Linked DNA regions of Homo sapiens: region 1 is linked to region 2. Evidence: fine-mapped expression QTL. A gene starts in region 2. The other region holds a variant in brackets. All regions are shown on one strand. Distances are between the middles of the regions. Region 1 has its middle 23 kb from the start of SERP2. Region 2 holds the start of SERP2 (stress associated endoplasmic reticulum protein family member 2).

The links.
Region 1: its variant is fine-mapped to the expression of SERP2 in whole blood (TOPMed, PIP 0.97).

What each region holds. Positions count from the first base shown.
Region 1 is chr13:44,344,830-44,355,952 of GRCh38, reverse strand. No RefSeq gene overlaps it. Among named protein-coding and RNA genes, the nearest start is that of SERP2, 23 kb to the left of the region's middle. The variant T/C (reference allele first, on the strand shown) is at 4,931.
Region 2 is chr13:44,367,983-44,379,105 of GRCh38, reverse strand. It overlaps SERP2 (stress associated endoplasmic reticulum protein family member 2), which reads right to left and starts at 5,282. Exons shown (of 3, transcript NM_001010897.3): 1 at 4,997-5,282. The coding sequence starts at 5,080. LOC105370297 (a long non-coding RNA gene) reads left to right here and starts at 5,540. Exons shown (of 2, transcript XR_001749858.3): 1 at 5,540-5,709; 2 at 5,909-9,747.

The DNA of each region.
Region 1 (11,123 bases), 23 kb after region 2:
TAGCGAGTTAGGCAAAATGGAAAATAAGATATCAAGTTGACATCTTGGATAGATGAAAATACAGATTAATGGGGCAGGGGAATTCACTCAGGGCTGTAAGGAAGTACACTGTAAGTTGAGCAGTAATTTCATTAGAATATGCCAGAAGATACAGGCAAATTGCCAGGCTGGGATATGACAAAAGTGAATACATTGGCTTTTACTGTCACAGCAGATTGTCAGATTTTTTTAAAGGAATGATTTTATGGGTCTATACATTGGAAGGAAAGAAAAAGAGAAATTCAGGGCTGTTGCTTATGAGATAGGTTGAAAGCGTGATCAGAAAAGCAAGATAAATAAAATATTTGGCATGCAAGCCCATAAGAGGACACAGATAAAATCTTTGTGTTTTTTTTCCTTGGTTGCTGTTAGAGCAAAACAAAACAAAACAAAACAAACAAACAAAAAAAGAATGAGAATTTGAACATCTGGGTTCTACTCCTATTTCTACTAGCTATGTGATCTTAATAAACCACTTACTTCCATGCCTAATTTGTCTGATGTGTAAAAAGAGAATAATATTTATTCTTTTAATTCATGAAATTTTTGTGATAATCTATCAAATAAAACAGATGAAAAAATCTTTGAAAAATATAAAGCATAATGTGTTCTTATTATATACATTTTCTGGAACTTTTATTTTCCTGTTACATTTTTTATGTTTCAAAAGTTATCCAAATTGTTCCTCATTTCCCAAAAATGCTTAGCTAATACTTCTGTTGCTTATTAACAGACTAGATCTGAAGATGAGCTTGGGGCTTGTTTACAGCTTTATTGTGTACTTAATGCTTTCTTCAGATATGCCTATCTTGCCTACCTTCAGTCTTTCAGGAGAACCATAAAACATGTTGAAGTTATGATGATTGATTTTAAGGATACATCCTGTCTAGGGCCAAAGCTTCCACTGTGGAGGGAACCCCGTTTATTTTTTTTTCTCTAGGAAGGCTGGTATGACTGATTAAAATGAGGTAAGTTCTTATGAGCGCTTTTCTCAGGGTTGGCGATACAGATTAGATAACAGCCTAATAACATTACTGATTAATCTAGATTTACACATACCTACTATATGAAAGAGGAAAGTCAGAACTACTATATTTAGCAGAATTGAAACCTCACTAATTATAAGACATATTTTTGTGTTGTTCGTGGTAAGAAATAAGAAAAAATTCCACCAATTATAATTTTAAGATACTATAGATTATAAGTAGACCCTGATTTCAGAGATTCTTAAATGGAAGAAACTGTGTGACTTAGAAGTAATGAAATATGGTCAGGATTATAGGTGTCTATTTTGCCTGAGGAATGAATAAGGACAGACCTTATTCATTTGTGAAGTTCCCACAACAGAGCCATGAGGAAGAGATTCCTTTCCGTATTTTATGGTGAAGGAGACTGAGATGCAAATATGTTTCTCTGCCAAATGATTCAAAACAAGGAAATAATGATCCTGGAATTTAAGTCCAGGTCTGTCTGATTCCTAACTCTATCACACCATGTTGGGATTTATTGTATATTGACTTATCAGGAAGTTTTACTCTTTCTCTGACTGTATTTTAAGATTAGAGAACTTAGAAAACTTTCTTAAAATACAGCTGGCAATGTTCTACATGCTAGCTAGACTTTCCTCCCTTTTTTTTTGAGACAGAGTATCGCTCTGTCGCCCAGGCTGGAGTGCAGTGACGCAATCTCGGCTCACTGTAAGTTCTGCCTCCTGGGTTCATGCCATTCTCCTGCCTCAGCCTCCCGAGTAGCTGGGACTACAGGTGTCCGCCACCATGTCCGGCTAATTTTTTTGTATTTTTAGTAGAGACCGGGTTTCACTGTGTTTGCCAGGATGGTCTCGATCTCCTGACCTCGTGATCAAAGTGCTGGGATTACAGGCGTGAGCCACCGCGCCCAGCCTACTTCCCTCCTTTCAAAACCTCAAGTTACATTTGACTTTCACAGAATAACTGACCCCAGAATTGGGCTGGACCCAATACTTGCTCAGGTCCTTACCAGAAGACAGGCGATGTACACCCTGATTGGGAAGGAAGCTGCCTGCACCAGAGTTACGAGGAGCTAAGATGGCGCAGCCAAGGTGGTGAGCAAACTGCTTTCCAGATCAGTGCTTTTTCAGGATACCATTCTCCTTTTTATTTTGGACAACAAGTATGTAAGTATAGAAACAATAGAGAATGTAACAAATGCCCCGTGCCCACTAGCCAGAAGGAGCAGATGTGCATGTTTCATTGTATTTGCTTCAGAGAAAGTCCAAGTCCCTTTTGTTCTCCTTCCCAGTCCCATTCCACTTCTTCCTTCCCCAGGGGTCACTGCTATCACAAATGTATTGTGCATCTTTCAATTTATGCCATTTTTTCTTTCCTCATATAACATATCATAATAGTGTATTTTAAAAACACCCACAGAGATGGTGACATGATATATTTATCATCCTGTGACTTTCTTTTTTTCACTTAACATTATGTTGCCAGGATGTAACCATGTGGATTTATGATAATCTAATTCATTCATTTCAACTTCTGCACAGTGTTCCCCAGTGTGAATGGGCCACAAAATCTATTAATCCCTCTATCTTTGGACATCACATAGACTGTTACAGTGAAACTTCTTACACACATCTCCTTGTGCACATATGGGACGTTTCCTCCAGAAATATATAGCTGGAAATGGTATAGCTGGGTGATAGGCCACATGCATTTTCAATATACCAAATGTTTTCTGAACTAATTTATACCATCAGCCATGTGCAAGAATTCTCATTTCCCCCACATGTTTGACGATATGAAGAACTGGTATTTTCAAATTTTGCCAATTGGTTGGGTGGGAAATGGTAGCTCTGTTGTTTTCATTGACTGGTGATATTTTATTTTTGACATGTGTTAAAGCTTGTGGGAATGTGGACTGTGCCCACACACCACAGGTCTCAGCCTCCTAGGAGCTGCATCTACAATCCACTCTGTAATCCTCGCTTGAAGTGTCTGAAGCAGACAGGGGTGGTGGGTGGGCCAGGGTGCTGGCAGTGTGTGTGGGAACTGTGTCATGCTCCATGACCAATGACTGCTCTGTGCCCACATCCTGTTAGTCTGCAGGACTTCAGGGCTGTAACAAATATTGACTCCAATTTTCTTAAGTGTAGGCTTCTCTCTGTTTATTGGTTGGACATATTTAAAGCCAGTCTTCTCGGTAAGCATGCAGTATAGCCAACACCTCCAGGCAACAACCCTTGGCAGAAAATGTTCTGCTCCAAGATAGCAGCAACATCTCACTTTAAAAATTTATGCCAAGGAGACATGGTGGTAATAACTTGTTGACCGAGATTCTCCCTGGGCCTCGCTCCCTTACTCTTCAAGGTCACGTAAGCATTAGGCATTGGGTGGTGTTGAGGAACCTGGGATTTGGAGTACACAAGATAGCTGATCTCAGCTCCACCTCTTAACAAATAGATGATCTTGGGAGAGTTATCTCTAAACCACATCTGTAAAATGGTGAGCATAATAACAGCTACCCTATAGAATTGCTAGGATTAAATAAGGTAATGCAGACACACAGGAAGAGCTCATTAGATGTCAGCTATCTGTGTAACACATATCTCATTTGTGTATGGTATTGCAGATCACAGTAAATGATGCAAGTACAACAAGATTTGCACTGGTTTTCAAGTTCAGTCCCCTATGTAATGTATTGTACCATTTGCATTGTTACCTTGTATAGAGATTGCAAACAGGCAGCCTGTGGGAAAGTGTTTTATTTGGCTTACAAAATATTCATTTTCATTTTAATTTGATTCAACTTTTAAAAACTGGGAACTCGCAAGTAAATATCTTGAAGTTTTGCTTCTCTTAAAAAATCGAAGCTCAGCTAACATCAGTCCAGATGTCTATGTATTTAAAATAATCCTGAGAAGCCTCTTTAAAGGTTATGTTCTCTCCTACTTGTCATGGCCCCCTGCACACACACTGGGCCCCCTTCCTGGCCCTCATAGGAAGCTGAATTTGCAGCTCCTGCTTTTTGTGACTGCCGGTTCCTCCATGATGATTAACTATTAATAGCATTCCCTGAGCAGGTAGGTCCTTACAATGTCCTCCTCCAGGGACAGAGGGCAAAAGAGGAAAGAATGCTAATATTTGGTGGCAGCCAGCTCCAGTGCTAGACAGTTGTGCTCTGCAGATTTTATACCCTGTGTTATTGAATCTTCTTCACACTAGCTGTGAGACAAATGCTGTCATTCCCATTTTACAGACGGTGAAACATGTTTGGCGAGTTGAGTAACTTGCCCAAGGTCACTGCTACAAAGACGCAGAGCTGGTATTTGAGGCTGGCCCTTTAGAACTCCTAACCGATTTTTCACTCATTACATTGTACCAATGGATAGAAAATCAGCTTATCAGAGATTTGAATGGCCATCCCAGCTGAGGCTCCATGTAAATGTTGCGTCAGTGTTACTGATTTTCAGGTCTGCTCCTGGGGAGAGAAGGGTGCACATGTGTGAGCCTCAGGGCATTATTTACCATGTCTGGTTGGAGCCTCTCCCCGGGTAGTCGTCTCCTTGCCCATCCCTGTGTTTATTCCCCTAAGGACTGAGGGTCATTCCCAACTGAGGAGTAGGTCTGACTCTTCAGGGATGGCTTTAAATTTCCCTGTGCCCCCACATGTTTTGAGGCACATTTTGACCGAAAGAGCCAGGCCTCCTCATTACCTGTCTGACGGAGACTTCTCAGCACAGTTCTGGAAAGTCAGAGAAAATGTCAGTCAGAGAGTTTGAGCAAGCAGAAACAGGATGTGTTCCCTTCTGAAGGTAATTACAAGGCCTGCGTAGTAAATGGTAATGAGGTGGGTGAAGTCACACAGAAGAAATGTCTCTGATTGGCTGAGGAATGTTTCTCTTACC[T/C]GGATAAATATTTTGCAGCAGTTACCTGGGTGAAAACCAACTTCCTGTAAAGGGTTGATTAAAAAAACAAAACAAAGACTCTCGTGGGGTGAATGTTCCGCACTGTGTAATTATTTCCCAACTAATGATACCAACTCGACCTTAGGCAAAAGGAAGGCTCAAAACCAATTCTCACTGGTGAAGGAATGCTTCAAAGTGTATGTCTATTGCTCCATAGCTTCAAGGTGAGAACCACTTGTTCCCTTTGTTCTTCAAACAGAATTAACAGCTAACAGAACCTCCTTAAATTAAAAAAAAAAAAGCACCATTTAATTTAATACCCACAATTTAGTAGAAAGTCCTGTACTGTGGCCTTAGAAGCCAGAAGACAGCACTGAGATCCTTGGTCAGTGAACTTAACTTCTTCGTTTTCACCTACACAAATGAGATGATATTATAATATGCCAATTTCTACTTTGTATAATGAGGATCAAGGAAGACTATGATCAATTCAGGCAACAGACATTTATTGTCGATTACATGCCAGGAACATACGACAGATACTGGGAACAGGGGATGAAAGGGTCCTTGAGCCTCAAACACTCGCAGTTTCCTGGAGACAGAAACTTCAATGTGTGATGTGTTCCATATTAAAGGATGACCGAACACTGGGGTAGAATCCGTTCTGTGTGACCCCAGGGGAGCCCAGGGAAGGCCATCATCCTGCTCTGGGTTGGCAGTCGGTAAGAGGTGACACTGTGCTAGGTCTTGAAGGTGCATGGGGGTCCACCAGAAACAGAAAGGGGGTGTCAAGGAGTGGGTGTGGGCAGAGGGAAGAGCATGTGCTTGTGAAACAGCATGGGGGAAACCCTGGCAGCACCCCCTGCCCACTACCGAATGTAGTTGCAGGGTTCAGTGGGCCCCAGGCAGAGAAGCTGGGAGGCTGGCGTCTAGGGCAGGGCTGTGGGGTGAGGCACTTGGGCCTGCTGCTGGAGGTGAAGGGCCGCCACCCAAGGAAGGGATATTTGGACCTTTTTCACTGCAAAGTGCTTTTTTATGCCATCCTAGACCTAGTGTAGGTGATTTCTCACAGCCTTCCACTTGCTCTTCCAATCACATTTCCTCACCCAGCCTTGGGCTCATCCTCAGCCAGGATTTCTGCCGTGCAGGGCCTCATCAGCCTCATTTGCAGCGTGCTCCGGACACATGTCCCTCTAACTCTATTCCTAGGAGAGATTCCAGGCCCCTGTGAAGAAAGCGCTGCCTCTCTGAGCATCCCAGGACTCAGCAGGCTCTCTCCCTGCCCTTCTGTGTTTCCTTCCAATCCCACACTCGCCACCTTGACCTTGCCTCTTCAGCAGAGTCTAGAGGAGTCTTTGGTCTTATAAGGGAGCAAGAGTTAGACTTCCTCGACGACAAAGTGCAGGAGCCCGCTGGTATGTCTTTTTTTTTTCTCCCTTTAGGGAAGATAAAAGTATTGGGCCGGCTCCCTTCCTCACCTGGGCAATCTAGACTGTTCCAGAGCAAGAGTTCCAACGAAGAAGCATAGCACTCTGGTCTAAGCATGGAAAACTTATTAATGGAAAATTAATGGAAATTAATGGAAAACTTAAACTGGTGAATAAAATGTACTGTCTGCCTAGCGTGCAAAATAGCAACAAAATTTAAAAATACGTGTTAAGCTGTTGTTTTTACTTGACTAGTAATTGGCAAAATATTACAGACTACTGAATTTAATTATCATTGTACGTGTCTAGGTCATCTTTTGATGAGCTGGCAATGTTTACATAAATAATAAATAGAGGCTTAAATAATGATTCTTATATAATCACTACATACATTTTATTTTTATCACCTATTTTAGCTTGGTCGCTATTTTGTTCTAATCAAGATTTTCACATCATTTATGCTCACTTCATAATAGTGGTATAAAAGATTAAAAATACAAATATATTTTTATTTAAACTATATTTAAAAGGTGAATTAATGTAAATGTGAAAAATTTGAATTATTTTATATACATTTTAAGCCACTTATTTTTCTCCTAAAATAGTTGAAATTACTTTTTAAAGTTAAAAGGCAAGTTACCAACAATAGTTAATGAATACCAAACTTTTAGATCAAAATTATCTAAATACAGCTGATGATTTAAAATGATTTAGTTTTGCAAATATTTAAATCCTATTAAATATTTCATAAAAATAAATCTATCTGCATTTCTAGCATTAAACATCTATCTAGTTGCCAACTAAAGAATTGCTATCATGTTTTATGCAGTCATAGATATATTTATAAATATACAAATTTGTTTAATATTGCAAAATGTTTTCCTGTCATCATGTCACAAATGCTCCACTGATTTACAAGTACATTCATTCCTCAGTAATTGCAGGGGATTGGGCCCAGTACTATGACAGATATCAAAATTAGTGGATGCTCAAGTTCCTGATATAAAATGATATAGTATTTGCATCTAACCTAGGTACATCCTCCCGTATACTTTAAATCATCTCTAGATTATTTATAATACCTAATACAATATAAATGCTATGTAAACAGTTGTTATACTGTATTATTTTTCTATTGGTATTATTTTGTACTGTTGTAATGTTATTTTTATTTTTTTTCCCTACTTTCTATGCATGGTCAGTTGAATACATGAATATGGGATCCATGGGTACTGACTCTACCTCCAGAACCACGCACTTGAGCACAAATAGGTCACTCAGCACTACAGTGAACCTATATTTAACTTTGTAAGAGTCTATGTCATCCATGTTATCTGAAAGGAAGATCACTCAAAAATTCCTAATACTTTGAAGCAATATCTGCCTCGGACCTTGGCAGTGGCCCAACCCATAAGCCGTCATGGCATTTGGATGAAATTCTCTTTTAGTTCAAGGACAAAAGTGCAAGAGGGGTGGACAGGTGATTCTGTGGAGCCTGAACAGTGTTAGCCATGGGAATGTTTTAGTTATAAAAGAGAATGTTTAGGGTTACAAGTTATGCTGTGCCACTGATGAACACCAGATGTGCATGACAAATACCAGAGTCCCCTGTATTTTTTTTTTTTACTACATTTATTTTTTTCTTGTCTTAAGTGCATTTATATTATGTAAGGCCCTCTAAAGCATGGAACAAATAAAGTACAGGATATGCAGTTAAATGTGAATTTCAGATAAATGATGAAACTTTTAAAATATAAGTATATCCCAAATAATGCATGGGACATACTTATACTAAAATATTGTTCATTATCTGAAATTAAGAATTAATTTTTCTTAATTATTAACTGTGGTTTATTTGCTAAATCTGGCAAACTTAGGAGCAACAAGCACACTCTCTTTTGCCCAGACCTAGAGAAAGCACTAATAGTCCCAGCTACTCAGGAGGCTGGGGTGAGACCATCACTTGAGCCCAGGAGTTTGAGGCTAGCCTGGGTGACATAAGGAGACCACCCTTTCTGAAAAAAACAAAAACAAATACAATACTAATCATGGCTTGATGATTAAAGAAATAGCTGGAAGAGAAGAGCCCATTTCCTAATTTCCTACAGACATTCCTACATTCCTGGTAAGAAACTCACCTTCCAGGCTCTACCTCCTTTTTTTTTTTTTTAGATATAGTCTGACTCTGTCACCCAGGCTGGAGTGCAGTGGCACGATCTCAGCTCACTGCAACCTCTACCTCCCAGGTTCAGGTGATTCTGGTGCCTCCGTCCCCCAAGTAGCTGGGATTAGAGGTGCCTGCCACCACGCCCAGCTAATTTTTGTATTTTTAGTAGAGACGGAGCTTTGCCATGTTGGCCAGGCTGCTCTCAAACTCCTGACCTCAAGTGATCTTCCAACCTTGGCCTCCCAAAGTGCTGGGATTACAGGGGTGAGCCACCATGCCTGGCCTACTGTACCTACTTCTGGTGATAGATAGAAATAATGCACTTTGTGTGTATTACTTAGCACACAAAAAAACGGAAAGGTGGGTCCCTGAATTCTGGAAATCCTCACAAAGACTCCTGTGAGAGGAATGTTGAATTTTCTTTCTACCCATCACCAGAAGTAGGTAGAGTCTGGGAGGCTAGTTTCTTACCAGGAATGTCTATAGGAAACTAGAAAATGGGCTATTCTTTCCCAAATATTTGTTTAATCATCAAGCCATGGAGTGTCATTGGTTCATTCTGCCATATAGCTTGAATAGTTGCTAACTCTATTTATTTATTCATTCATTCATAAAATGTTTATTAGGCCTTTTTATGTACCTGACACATTTATATTACACCTACTAGTTATAAAACCCCATGGAGTCAATATTATTATCTCCATTTTACAGATGTAGAAATGAAGCTCAGTGAGGTTACATAATTTGCATGAGAACACCCACTTGGTAAGTGACAGAGGAAGAATTTAAACCTATGTTGTTCTGACTTCCAACTTCTAGTAAAAATGTAGGCTGTGTTGTGGAAGGAGGGGAGAGCTAATATTTCTTTAGTACCTATTATGCCCCAGGCACAACCTGATATACTTTATTGACAAACTTTCTTCAAATTAGATTAAATTGTGACCTCTCAGAAAAGCAAAAATGAAAGAAATACAAAATTGTTTCCATAAGATAAAACTATAGTGCTCAAACAAGAAGAAGGAGGACTAGTTCTTTCTAAAACTTGTATGGAAATGCAAAGGACCTAAAATTGCCAAAATAATTTTGGAAAAAGAAGAACAAAGTTGGAGGACTTACACTATCTGATTTCAAAAGTTGTTTTAAAGCCACAATAATTAGATACAAAAGGATAGACATATAGGTCAATGGTAAAGACTAGAGTCCGGAAATAAATTCTCACATTTGTGGTTAATCGAATTTTGAAAAGGGTGCAAAGAACAAAAGGGTAGCCTTTTTAACAATGGGGGAAAGAAGAGACTTTTCAAAAATGGTGCAGGAACAATTGGATGTCTGTATACACAAACAAACAACAGCAACAATAATAAAGTGTTTAGATTTTTACCTCACACCATATGTAAAATATAACTCAAAATATACCATAGATCTGCATGTAAGAACAAAAGCTATGAATCTACTCAACAAAATCAGTAGAAAAATCTTTGTGAGCTTAGGTTGGGCCAAAGTTTCTAAGATGTGAGTTGCATAAAAGAAAAAATAGATGTTAGCCTTTATCAAAATTATGAACTTCTGCTCTTTTAATGACATTGTTAGGAGAATGGAAAGACAAGCCACAGACTGGGAGAAAAGATTTGCAAATCATTTATCTTTGATAACGGACTTGTATCTAAAATACATAAAGAATGCTTATGACTCAATAATATGACAAGTCAATAATAAGCAAAATGTGTAAACAATTTAAACATATTTACCAAAGAAGATACATGAATGGAAAAACAAAAACACATGAATAGATGCTTGTCATTAATCATTAGGGAAATGCATACAAAGCCACAGTGAGATACCAGTACATATCCACTAGAATGTCTATAATCAAAAAGATGGTCAATACCAAGTGTTGGAGAGAATATGGAGACACTGGAGCTCTCATATGTTGTTGGTAAGAATGTAAAGATGGTAGTTTCTTTGGAAAGCAGTTTTGTAGTTTTAAAAAACTTAAATTTACTGTAGAACCCGGCAGTCCTACTTCTAGGAATCTAGTAAAAAGACATGAAAGTACATAGCCACACAAAGACTTGTATATAAATGCTTATAGCAGCTTTATTCAATAATAACCCCAAAGTGTCAACTGATGACAAACAAAATGTGGCATATTCATACTGTGGAATACTACCCAGCAAGGAAAAGGAATGAAATATTAAAACATGCAAAAACATAGATAAAACTCAGAAACATTATACAAAGTGAAAGAAGTCAGATACAAATGACTGCACATCGTGTGATTCAATTTACATGAAGTTTCTAGAAAAGGCAAACCTGTTGGCTGGGTGTGGTGGCTCATGCCTGTAATCCGAGCACTTTGGGAGGCCAAGGTCGATTACGAGGTCAGGAGTTCAAGATCAGCCTGGCCAAGATGGTGAAACCCCGTCTCTACTAAAAATACAAAAATTAGCCAGGTGTGGTGGCAGGTGCCTGTAATCCCAGCTACTTGGGAGGCTGAGGCGGGAGAATCGCTTGAACCCGGGAGGTGGAGATTGCAACGAGCCGAGATCACGCCAATGCACTCCAGCCTGGGTGACAGAGTGAGACTCTGTCTCAGAAA
Region 2 (11,123 bases):
GAATTCCAAGCAGGATCAGAGAGCACAGACATTTTCTGAAAACCTTTTACATAACCCCAAATTAGGAAGTCAGTACAGTGGAAATCCTTGCAACAACAGAAGCACCACAGCAATTGTGAATGGTTATGAGTGAAGCAGCATTTTGTAATAAAGCTCCTAAGCCTTAATAAAGCTTGCACTTGGGAGAAGTCTCTGAATTCTCTGGGAAGCAGAAGGGGACTGTCAAAACTGCATGAATGAAGCCCTACAGACCTCCTGCTTTTTCAAACCAAAAGCACAGACATAATAAGATCTTCCCTCCACAACACCTCCAGGTCTATGTGCAGGTAGGGCTTGGTCCTTAAACCCAAATCAGTCAGAACAACAAATATTTTCTGAGAGATGCATCAGAAAAGAAGTGAATTTCTCAAATAGAATGGGAGAGTGAAAAAAAAAACAACAACAAAGAACTCACTAATTATTTTCTGATTAGCTTGAAAAATAGGCTGCATTCAACACACGTTAAAGAATTCACATGCAAAACACACAAAGAAAAACGTGTTGGTAGAGTGGAATGTTCACAAGTATTGATTTGTGGTTGATCTCATAAAACCCAATTCCAGATTTCAATTAAATGTTGTTGACATTTAAACATTGTATTCAACATTGTAAAATATGGGCTAAAAGGTATGTTCATATCCATACAAATACCACAGCTTGACATTCAGACTGAAGGTATGTAATAGTGTTTCAAAAAAAACGAGTGGTGCTATCATCAAGGATGTAAGTTTTTGAAATGTTGAACAAGTTTTAGTAATGTTTCTAACAAAAACTTCTTTAAAAAAGGATAATCTTCCTTTGATTTTCACTGTAGTTGCTTTCCTAGAAAATTTATCATATATTAAAACTGTAAAATCTATGATGTGTTGTATTTATATGTAAAATTAAGTTCTAGGCTAATGTAAATGTAAACTGGCTTCTCATCTAAAAAAGGAATTTATTTTATCATAGATAAGGCAACAGTTCTTTAGTTTTCAGCTTACCAAAGAGCCCTTCTCTTTTACCTCACTTGGGTCCACTCGTCACTTGTATGGCCACATACTTTTTCTTGATAGCATGTGTCACAGTTTGTAGGTCTATATTTATTCTTGTGATAATTAATGTGTTTAATATCTGTCTCTCTATGAGACTACAGACCCCACAAGGGCAGGGACTATGTCTTGTTCATGTAGTAATATATAGAAATGCCTGCCACAGAACTTAAACATAGGAGATAATAAACGTTCATCAAAGAACAAATAAACATACAAGTTTCATTAAATAAGATTTCTTAGGTTAGGCAGAGTAAACACAGGTTCTAGGAAGGATATTGTCTTTTTAGTAATAATTCCTAATTGGTGTAGGATTATCCCTGTATCTCTCCTACATGAGAAATATGGATTAAAGTGTCAACGGCAGGTAGACTTTGACTAAGGATTAAGACATTCACTTCTCTGTCCTTGACTAAGCCTGTATCTACCACCACTTACATGCCGGCAAGTCACACTGCAAAGGAATCGGTGGCTGCTCTTAATCAGACGAGGACAAGATCAGTCTTAAATAATTGCATAAGATAACTGTGCCATTTTTTGGCCCTTAAGGCCAGGCCAAGTTCAGATCCGGTAAACAACATTCATAAAGCTACCTGAACAAAGTGTGACATTCGCCCTTCCCACCCTCTTCCACCACCTTCCCAGGAACTTGTCACAGTTGCCCAGAAACCAGTTCTGTTGCTGTTGTGCCACTGATGCTATATAAAAAAATTCATTTTATCTCTATTTCCAGCAAAGCTAATAAGTGAATTCAGAAGCCTGTAATGAATTACTTGCCCAGGACAGATACCAAATAGAGTCCTTTATTTTTCATATGCAGAAAAAACAGATGATCAGCATGTAGAGCTTGGACCATATAACACAAAAACCTTTTGGATGACATTCTCCATGGAATCAACATGATTTGGGGACTTTGGCTGATCATAGTACCCATATATCTTTTTTTTGACAGCTTTGGGTGACTACTTTTTAGAAGGGGTGCCCAGCACAATCCCATTGGGACAATTCACATAAACCTTACTCTATGGCTGGAAAAGGTGGGGAAAACTAGTAGTGATTCTGCAAATGACATGGTTTACTCCAAACATGAGTTTGCTACTTCTTGAGGCTCCAAAAATGTCAGGGAATGGCTTTCCCTGTGATTAAGATACCCGTAGGGTAACTCAGAACTCTGAAATTTAAATTCCCCCTTCATTCTGGAGAAGTTACTACTGTATAATCACAAAATGATTATTCCATTTCTCTGTTTCCTTTTTTTTTTTAGACGGAGTCTTGCTCTGTCACCCAGACTGGAGTGCGGTGGCGTGATCTCGGCTGACTGCAACCTCTGCCTCCCGGGTTCAAGCCATTCTCATGCCTCAGCCTCCTGAGTAGCTGGGATTACAGGCGCCCACCACCATGCCTGGCTAATTTTTGTATTTTTAGTAGATACGGGGTTGTGCCATGTTGGCCAGGCTGGTTTCGAACTCCTGACCTCAGGTGATCCATCCGCCTTGGCCTCCGAAAGTGCTGAGATTACAGAAAGTGCTGAGCCACCACGCCCGGCCTTGTTTCTTGGATTAGTCTGCTATCTGGGAGAATAATATTAATTTATCCGTAAGCTATTAGCTAATAATAAAATACTGAAGCATCTGCATACAATTAAAGAAGTTTATTTCTGAACAATTAGTCTGAATTTTCAGTTGGAATCTATACTTGTTCCCATTTAATGAATTTCATCCTGAATAGTGATCTTTTGCAAGTTACTTTTAACAAAGTATAATCATATTTGACTTGTAATTGAGAACATGAGATTTAGGATTTATCAAGTTTCTCTTTGAAAGAAAATTTCATTTTTCTATTGGATAGTAATCTATTTACAATAACATTAACCAAAATCCCCCCAACCAATGCAAAGCAAACATTGATTGTGGCTTGGTCTGGAAACCTTTCATTACAAATTTAGCTGGGCCATTTAAAAACTCTTATAGGTGCAAGGCACTATGAGAGTTTCTTGGGGGCCACCCCATGACATATCAGAGCATATTAAAATGAACTCATACTGTACATTAAATATAATTTAAATGTAGCTCTGAACATTGAGTTGAATGGCAGGTGACTGGTACCTTTTCTAGGTATTTAAACAATGTTTTCCCAATTTTTCCATTTTCTTCTTTTATTTTGGAGCTAATAATTTTTGTTTTGGGTCCCAAACATTTTCTAGTTTTCTTGAAGAACTTGAGGTGGCAGACACTGAGTCTACAGAACCTAATAGATACAACAGCCTTAGAAATTAGTTCTTGTTTTCTTCTTACTTTTGTAATCAGATAAGCTGTCAACTGAGATCTGACAACTGAACTCCGGTTTTTTAGTTCATGAAAAAGAGCCACATGACTAGTTATTTTTCACTGTGTCAGTTAGCAGGTCTGATCCCTTGAGAAGGAAGAATTGATCTCTTAGGGATATAAAACCCTGCATGCCTTAACATCAATTATAAGTTGCTTCTCAATGTCAACCCGGGCAGCCATTTTTTTTTCCTCAGTAAAAATAGGGAAAACATAAATCAATGTGACAAAATGGTTCCAATTTGATGGCATCTTGGCATTTTGCTGCCTAATCACAACTGAGTGATATAATTCCTAAATGAGAGAATTTTAAGGATTACTTAGGTCTTGTGTATAAAGCTCTGAGTAGAGTTGAGTTATGCTTAGACTTGTGTATAAAGCTCTGAGTAGAGTTGAGTTTGGTCCTAGAGTTTCTCTGCCGTAATACTGCTTGGTTTTGCAAGAATTCTGGTGTGATGATTACAGATCTAGCTTTTTGCTTAGTTAATCAAACCAATATAGTTTCTTTGGCTAAAAGGAATTGATTCATCAAATCTGCAAGCTTTCCCAGCCAAACTCCAGGCTTCAGCTGGATTTCCACTTAACTGTACGGGGTAACAGATCCCAGGCGCCTTTGCTCATATACTTGGAGACCAACTTCGCCAAACTACCCATGCGACTCATGCCTCTGAATGTCCAAAGTCACAGGCCTCGCATTTTCTGTTGATGATAATCTGCTTTGCTAAAAGAAACTCCTGAGTGTAAGGCACAGGTTTTACTTAAAAGTCCAGTTGCAAAGCTTGAATTTACAGTTCTAGGGACACCGAATGCCTGACAATAAACTGGTCTCTAAAGTTATACCATGAGAATGAGTCTGAATTCACCAAGTGGAAAGAATAGGAATGCTGCCCTTAGACTTTAGCCTAGGGGCTGAGGGAGGTCTCGCTGGAAGAGAGGTAAAAGAGAAAAAAGAGGCTGGAGGGAATGTGGGTCCAAATCTCACTCCCCATTTTGAGCTCTTTCCACACCTCCAGTGAAACCGTCACAAAGGGGCTGGAAAGAAAACTTGATCCTGGTGCAAGTCTGTTGGGGAGGGAAGACAGGTGGAGTCCGGGAGGAGATGACAAGTGGCCTCCATTTAGCCATTGATTCATTCATTCATTCAACAAACGTTCTAGAACATACTAGGTTCCAGGCTCTGTGTCATGCAACGTTCTAGAACATACTAGGTTCCAGGCTCTGTGTCATGCAGTTGACTTAACTGGCCCCTAAGGATGAGGCTTTCCGTCTTTCTCCGGGACAAGGCCCAGCTGTCTCCCGGGCAGGGGGACAGGGGGTGCGGGTCGGGGAGGAGGGCTCCTCTGCGCCTCCCTGGTAGCCCAGGTAGCCACTCCCAGAGGGGCCACGACCAACCAGGGCCCTCTCCGCCCACGAGGACGCCAAGCAGACCGCGCCGCCCTGAACCCAGCTCTCAGCCCCCACTCTGCAGGACCCCGCAGAAGGGGCGGGCCGGGAGCCGGGAGGCCGGACCCTGCGCCGCTACCCGCCCGGCCCCGCCCCCACCTTCCGCCCCACCCCGCCGGGCTGCAGGGCTCTGCCTGGCCGGCGCCGACCCCGCCTTACCAGGGTTTTGGCTACGTTCCCCCTCTGGGTGATGTTTTTGCTGTGCTTCTCGTTAGCCATCCGGATCCGCTGTTTGGCCACCATGGCTTGTGCGCTCTGAAATGCTCCCACCTGCAAGGATTCCCCCTGCGTTAGCTCCTGCGACAGGGCCGAGCGCGTCCCGCCGAGGCCCCCGCGGCCCACCCGGGCGCTGCAGGTGGCAAGGCGTGGCCCCGAGCCCTGCGCACCCCGCTCCCCGAGCCCCGGCTAGCCGACTCCAGAGAGAGGCCGCAGCCCGGACGGAAGTAATCTCTCATCTCAGGAAACCCTTTCCGACTTCCTCGCCATCCTTCCGGTCCCCGCAGCCACCTACCCCGCGCGGCCACCGAGGCAGGCGCGACCGCACGTCCTCCCGCGCCGAGCGGCCGGAGCGCAGCGCGCAGAGCCGGGGCCCTGCAGTGTCGCGGTCCTGTAGCCGAATGCTGCGGGGCCGAAGGTTCGGGCGACCACGGCGTTTGTGAGCGCGTCGGGGACGGGGACGCGGCCCCTCCTGTGTTTGTCGGCCGGTGACCCACCCCAGCCCCGGGGAAGGGATGAGGGCGGCCGCGCTTCAGGCCGGGCCGCGCGGTCTCCCCTGCACCGCCGCCCCCTGGACGAGGGCTGGACCCAAGGCGGTGGTCAGGGACCTCAGAACACAAGTAGAACCAGTCCAGGCCCGGGCCCGCGCTGCCCGGGTATGGTCCACCAAACGAGCCTTCTCTTTAAGGGTCTCGAGAAGGGCCCCACGCTGGGGGACCCCACTGCAGAACTTTTCGTGAGGGCTGCAAGGAGGGCCGCGTTGTAAAATAAAGAGGAGACACGAAGCGGCATCCCCTGAGGGTTGGGGATCGGGCCGTGAGGATGGAGTTGGGACAGGCCTTTTTGCTTTGGTAGTTGTAGGGGTTGCATTGGAAGATGGGCCAGCGGCAGAGCGGAGCATGCAGGAAAGAGGAAGAGGCCTTGGACCTGCAGCCCAGGTCGGATTTGGTGGTTACTGTCTAAATCTGAAGCTTTGGCCTGCCTTGACTCCCCACCCACCCAGGGCAGCTTGGACCTCTCTCTAGCCACCCTTGTCCCGAGGGGTCTGAGTGTCTCCCAGACTAAACTGGGCATTTTCTGCAGTGGAAGGATAAAAATGGAAGCGTTTACGCGCCTCCCAGACACTGGTATTAGGGCTCAAGAGCTCTACAGATTGCCTGGGGAGGTAGGGGTGGAAGGGGTTCAGTTCCTCACTTGGAGTTAGCTCTTAGAAGCTCAGAAGAGTGGAGGCGAAGAGGGGACATTCAGCCTGGGAGATCTGGGGCAGCGGGAAGTGGGGATACCGGGTCGGGGTGAAGGCAAGCAGCAGCACCCCCAGCATGGGGAAGAAGGCCTGAGGCTGTCTCTGGCCACTGCATCTCTAGGCCTTCTCTTGGAGCGGGAGGTGGCTGGGTTTCCAGGGAATTTTGTGTGAGTAAAATTTTCCCATGTCATTGGAGAGTTAGGAAGAGCTCCTCTTTTGGGGCCTTTTTCCAAGCGGGTCCCCCTCACCCCGCTACAGGCTTCTTGTCACTCAGGCTTCAATAAAGGCCATTCTGGGGGCTGCTTGCTGTAACCTAGAAGACAGAATTGCCTAGGATCATTAGTAGAGTCATTTTTTTTTTTTCCTACTCTACAGGCCAATTAATTTGAAACAAGCTTCTATGGTCTTTTAACTGTTAGCATCACCACTGTTGTAACAGGACCATAAACCCAGTCTGCCCCACTCTAGTCCCATGTTTTTAATAACTGTTGGCTCTTTTTTAGGGGTTTGGGTGGGGGGATTCCTACCTCAGTGATCCCTGCTGAGCCTGGCTGTTGTCTGTGGTCCAGAAGGTTCCTTTACCTGACTCACTCCTCTCAGATCATGTCCAAATACCAGGAGACTGACCCAGGTCCTCACCAGGTGAGTAGAGGTCTGGCTCTGAGCGACATTAAGGAAAAGACACAGACAGAGACTGTTTTCTCTTTGGGTCTTCACATTCAGTGAGTACAGTTCAGAAGTGTTCTTAACTGAGAGAAGCCCCTTTTGGGGAAAATTTTTCTTTACTGTTGACTCCTTTTTCCTGCTATGCTTCACTTTTCCGGCATTTTAAATTAGTTTGTTTTAATTATGAGTAGACTACATCTACACAGTAAATAGTCAAACAGAAATAGGATAGAAAATGAAAAGTAAAGGTCTCTCTTTCCTTGCCACCCTCCCCAAAAAGTTCCCACGGTTCCTGGGTTGCCCTTCCAGTATATACAAGACTATTTGTATATTCCCTTCTAAAAAAAAACGGAATAGTAGTATGCAAACTGTTCTGCCACGTGCTCTTCTAACTTAATATATCAACATTATCATATCACTTATATATGACCTCTTTCTTGTAGTTGTGTTATGTCTCATAGTATGATTATACAGTAATATATTGAACTGATGTAACCATGGATGATTATTTCCAGTTTTTCTTTTTTTGTGGTTGCCAACAATGCTTCAGTGAATATCCCTGTACATAGATCAGTGTGTACTTGTGCAGGTATATCTGCGTGTGATATTGTGAAATATATATTTGATTGTAGTCCCTGTTTCCTGACCTAAAACTCTTAAATTCCTTGGACTCTCCAGAGTGATGAAAATATCTTACCTTTTGTATGCTAATGAGATGGTTGGTGACTTGGAGACCCTAGATAGCTTCAGGATGGGGACTGGTCACCAGAAAGATCAAGGCAGGATTAGAGGGTTGGGACTTTTAGTCCCACCCTGTCCCCCCAGACCTCCACAGAGAGGAGAGGGGCTGAAAGTTAAGTTGATCACCAGTGACCAATGATGTAATCAATCAGACATATGCAATGAAGCCTGTATAAAAGCCCAAAGGATAGGGTTTGTTGAGTTCTGGAGAGCAGAACATCAGGTTCCTAGAGGGTGGCGTGCTCAGAGAGGATATGGAAGCGCCACAGCCCTTCCCACATTTCTTGCCCTGTGCATCTCTTCCATCTCACTGTTCATCTATATGCTTTGTAATATCCTTCCTCATAAATGAGCAAACAGAAGTAAAGTGTTTCACTGAGTTCTGTGATCCACTCTAGCAGATTAGTCCAAACAAGGAGTGGGTTGGGGGAACTCCAGTTTATAGCTGGGCAGGCAGAGGTACAGGAGACAACCTACTACCTGGGATTGGCATCTGAAATGGGGGGCGGTCTCATAGGATCAAACCCTGAGCCCCTGCTATTTCCAGGTACATAGTGCCAGAATTGAATTGAATTAAAGGACACCCAGCCGGTGTCTGTTGCAGAATTGCTTGGTATGAGGGGAAACATCCCCCACACATCTAGTGTTAAAAGTGTGCTGGCTGTGTGAGAGTGGGAGACAACACTTTGGTTTCTCCTATATCACAACACTGGAATTAGATTCCTGGAAGTGAAATTGCTGCAACTTTTTATGTCCTTGGTTGGATGAAGAAACCTCGTGCTGTGACCTCCACTTTACCTGCTCACACCCCTGCTTTTGTCCTCTGCAGTCAGGCCAGCTCCTCTGCAGGTCTCAGTCCTGTTTATTGCCTTGAGGATCACCATCATGGACCAAGCAGTTTCCCAGCATGGATCCTGGCCCTTCTTATACTCAGCCTCCAGACCCTTATGTGGGGAGCTGGGGCTAAAGTCTATAAGCTGTGTTCCTGGAGTTCCAGAGTCACTACTAGACTACGAAGGAGCAAAGCATGGAGTCGTCTTGCTCTTTCGAGGACTTAGGAGGGGAAAATGGAAACTTGATTAAGGAGAACTTCTCCTGGGTTCATCTATGGTGGCAGCATGGAGTTTTGTAATATACCACTAGCATGCAGTGCTCAACCACAACTTTTAAAATTGTTATGGGCAAAGTGCCAGGAAACTGCTAACTGGTTAAAATTTAATTTTGGCTGGTAAAATTTTCAGCCTTTATTTTTATTTTTGAGACAGAGTCTCACTCTGTCGCCCAGGTAGGGGTGCAGTGGCGCAATCTTGGCTCACTGCAACCTCTGCCTCCCGGGTTCAAGTGATCCTCCTGCCTTAGCCTCCTGAGTAGCTGGGATTACAGGCATGCACCACCACGCCTGGCTTTTTATATTTTTAGCAGAGACGGGGTTTCACCATATTGGCCAGGGTGGTCTTGAATTCCTGTCCTCAAGTGATCTGCCCACCTCAGCCTCCCAAAATGCAGGGATTACAGGTGTGAGCCACCATGCCCAGCCAATTTTCAGCCTTTAGAGCAAGAAATCCTAACAAGCCTATGCCCATTAATCATAAATCTGCCCCACTTAGGGCACTGGATGTGTGGCTGTACAGACTGAGTTTTACCCATCTTTATAAATGATGCTACACTACTAAACTGTGATGCATTGGACATCTCTCATTTTTCTGTGGCTGACCAGCATGCAAACATTCTTTATATTTGGGGCACTCCATCACTGTGAGAGTCTTAGGACCTTCTTTCCCACCGTGGAGCATAAGGGGGCCACATACTTGGTCTCCCAACCCCTCACAGCTAGGGTGGCGTGTGATCTGGCCAATGAGATTCTCCTTTTGGGAACTGTGAATCTTGATCAAGTGGTGCAAAGACAGAGACACGTTAAAATTCATCTTGGTGGTCGAGTTTCTAGAGACTGGTAGTACCTAGCAATCATGGTGGAACCAGTGACAGTATCCTTTTTATTCCGTGGTACCTGAAATCCTTACAATAAATTCTTCCGCTTCAATCAGCCAGAGTGAGTTTGTCTTATTTACAACCAAGAACCCTGACTCATGTACATGAAAACAAACAAAAAACCAGAATGTCTTCCTTTGTCATTTCCCCTTCCAGATCTGGAGTGACTGTCATGTCACTTGAAGCTTTCACACATTGTTAGCTAGTGGTCTCTCTTCACCTTATCTCACTAAGGGGAACTGAGTATAGAGGCCTTGACGACAGGTGCTGTGGGTGGCTGGTCTCAATTATGGATGGGAGTGGTTGACAGGCACACCCTGTGTAAATAAAACCAGCAGATAACCGACACTTCAAATGAATACTTTCTTCTTTTTCCAAACCATTTTCAGTACGGCTAGAAAAGAGGAAAATTTGGCAAATCTCAGGTCATCTCCTTTTATACATGTTACTTACATTCTGGTGGAAATGTTCATGAAGTTGTCTCAATAGTGGGCAGAGAAAATCAAGAAAGCTGATAGCAAATGTTATCTGCCACATGCATTGGAGTCAACTCAATGCACTAGATTATGATTTTATGGAATCATGTTATGTTGTAACTGGAAGGAAACCCAGACAGTCATTTATTCATTCGTTTAGTGTTTATTGAGTGTCTGCTATATACCAGACACTATTTTAGACACTGAGAATTCAATGGTTGCTAGAAGAATGTCTGCTTTAGAGAGCTCTAAGTTTTGTGGAGAGGACAAGTAAATGTCGTGAGATTGTCCAAATTTCACAAATGAGTAAAAGCCTCAGAATTGCAAAGGGAATTGTAGCAGACCTGAAAGCAGAATTGTGGCCTCCTGACTTCTCATTTTTCCCAAAAGTAGCTTTACTAGCTAAACTTGAATGGGAGCCAGGGTAACAGGGCACCCTCATGGCTGAGCTTTGGAGCAGCTTATACATGCACGGAAAATAAATCTCCTCTCTCTCTGTCTCTTTCTCTTTCTCCCTCACCCCGCCCCGCCACCCCCCCTCAACCCCCCACGCTGCAGAACAAAGATAAACTATTTCAGACCTCAAAGGCTTGAACTTTGGTCCACAAGTGGTGGCACAAGACAGACTTTATCCATTATGATAGCTATGTAATTCCTTGACCCTGGAGGTGATCAGATTAAGCTTTAAAATGCAAGATGTGATCAACCATCTTAAGTCTGTAATTGCCTGGCCACATCTGTTATTAATAGCAGTAAAACCGTCATATCCCGAAGGAAAAAAAAACACACCCTGCTACAGTACTTTCCCTAATGACCTCCCATGGCAATTCACTCACAACTGAAGAAAGGAGAGATGCTTCCACATGTTTGAGCCCAAGCTGTAGCCATGTGTCTGCTATAATTTCATCAGTTATTTCAGGATAAAGCCACTTTGTTTCTGTTCAATCAGGTGCAT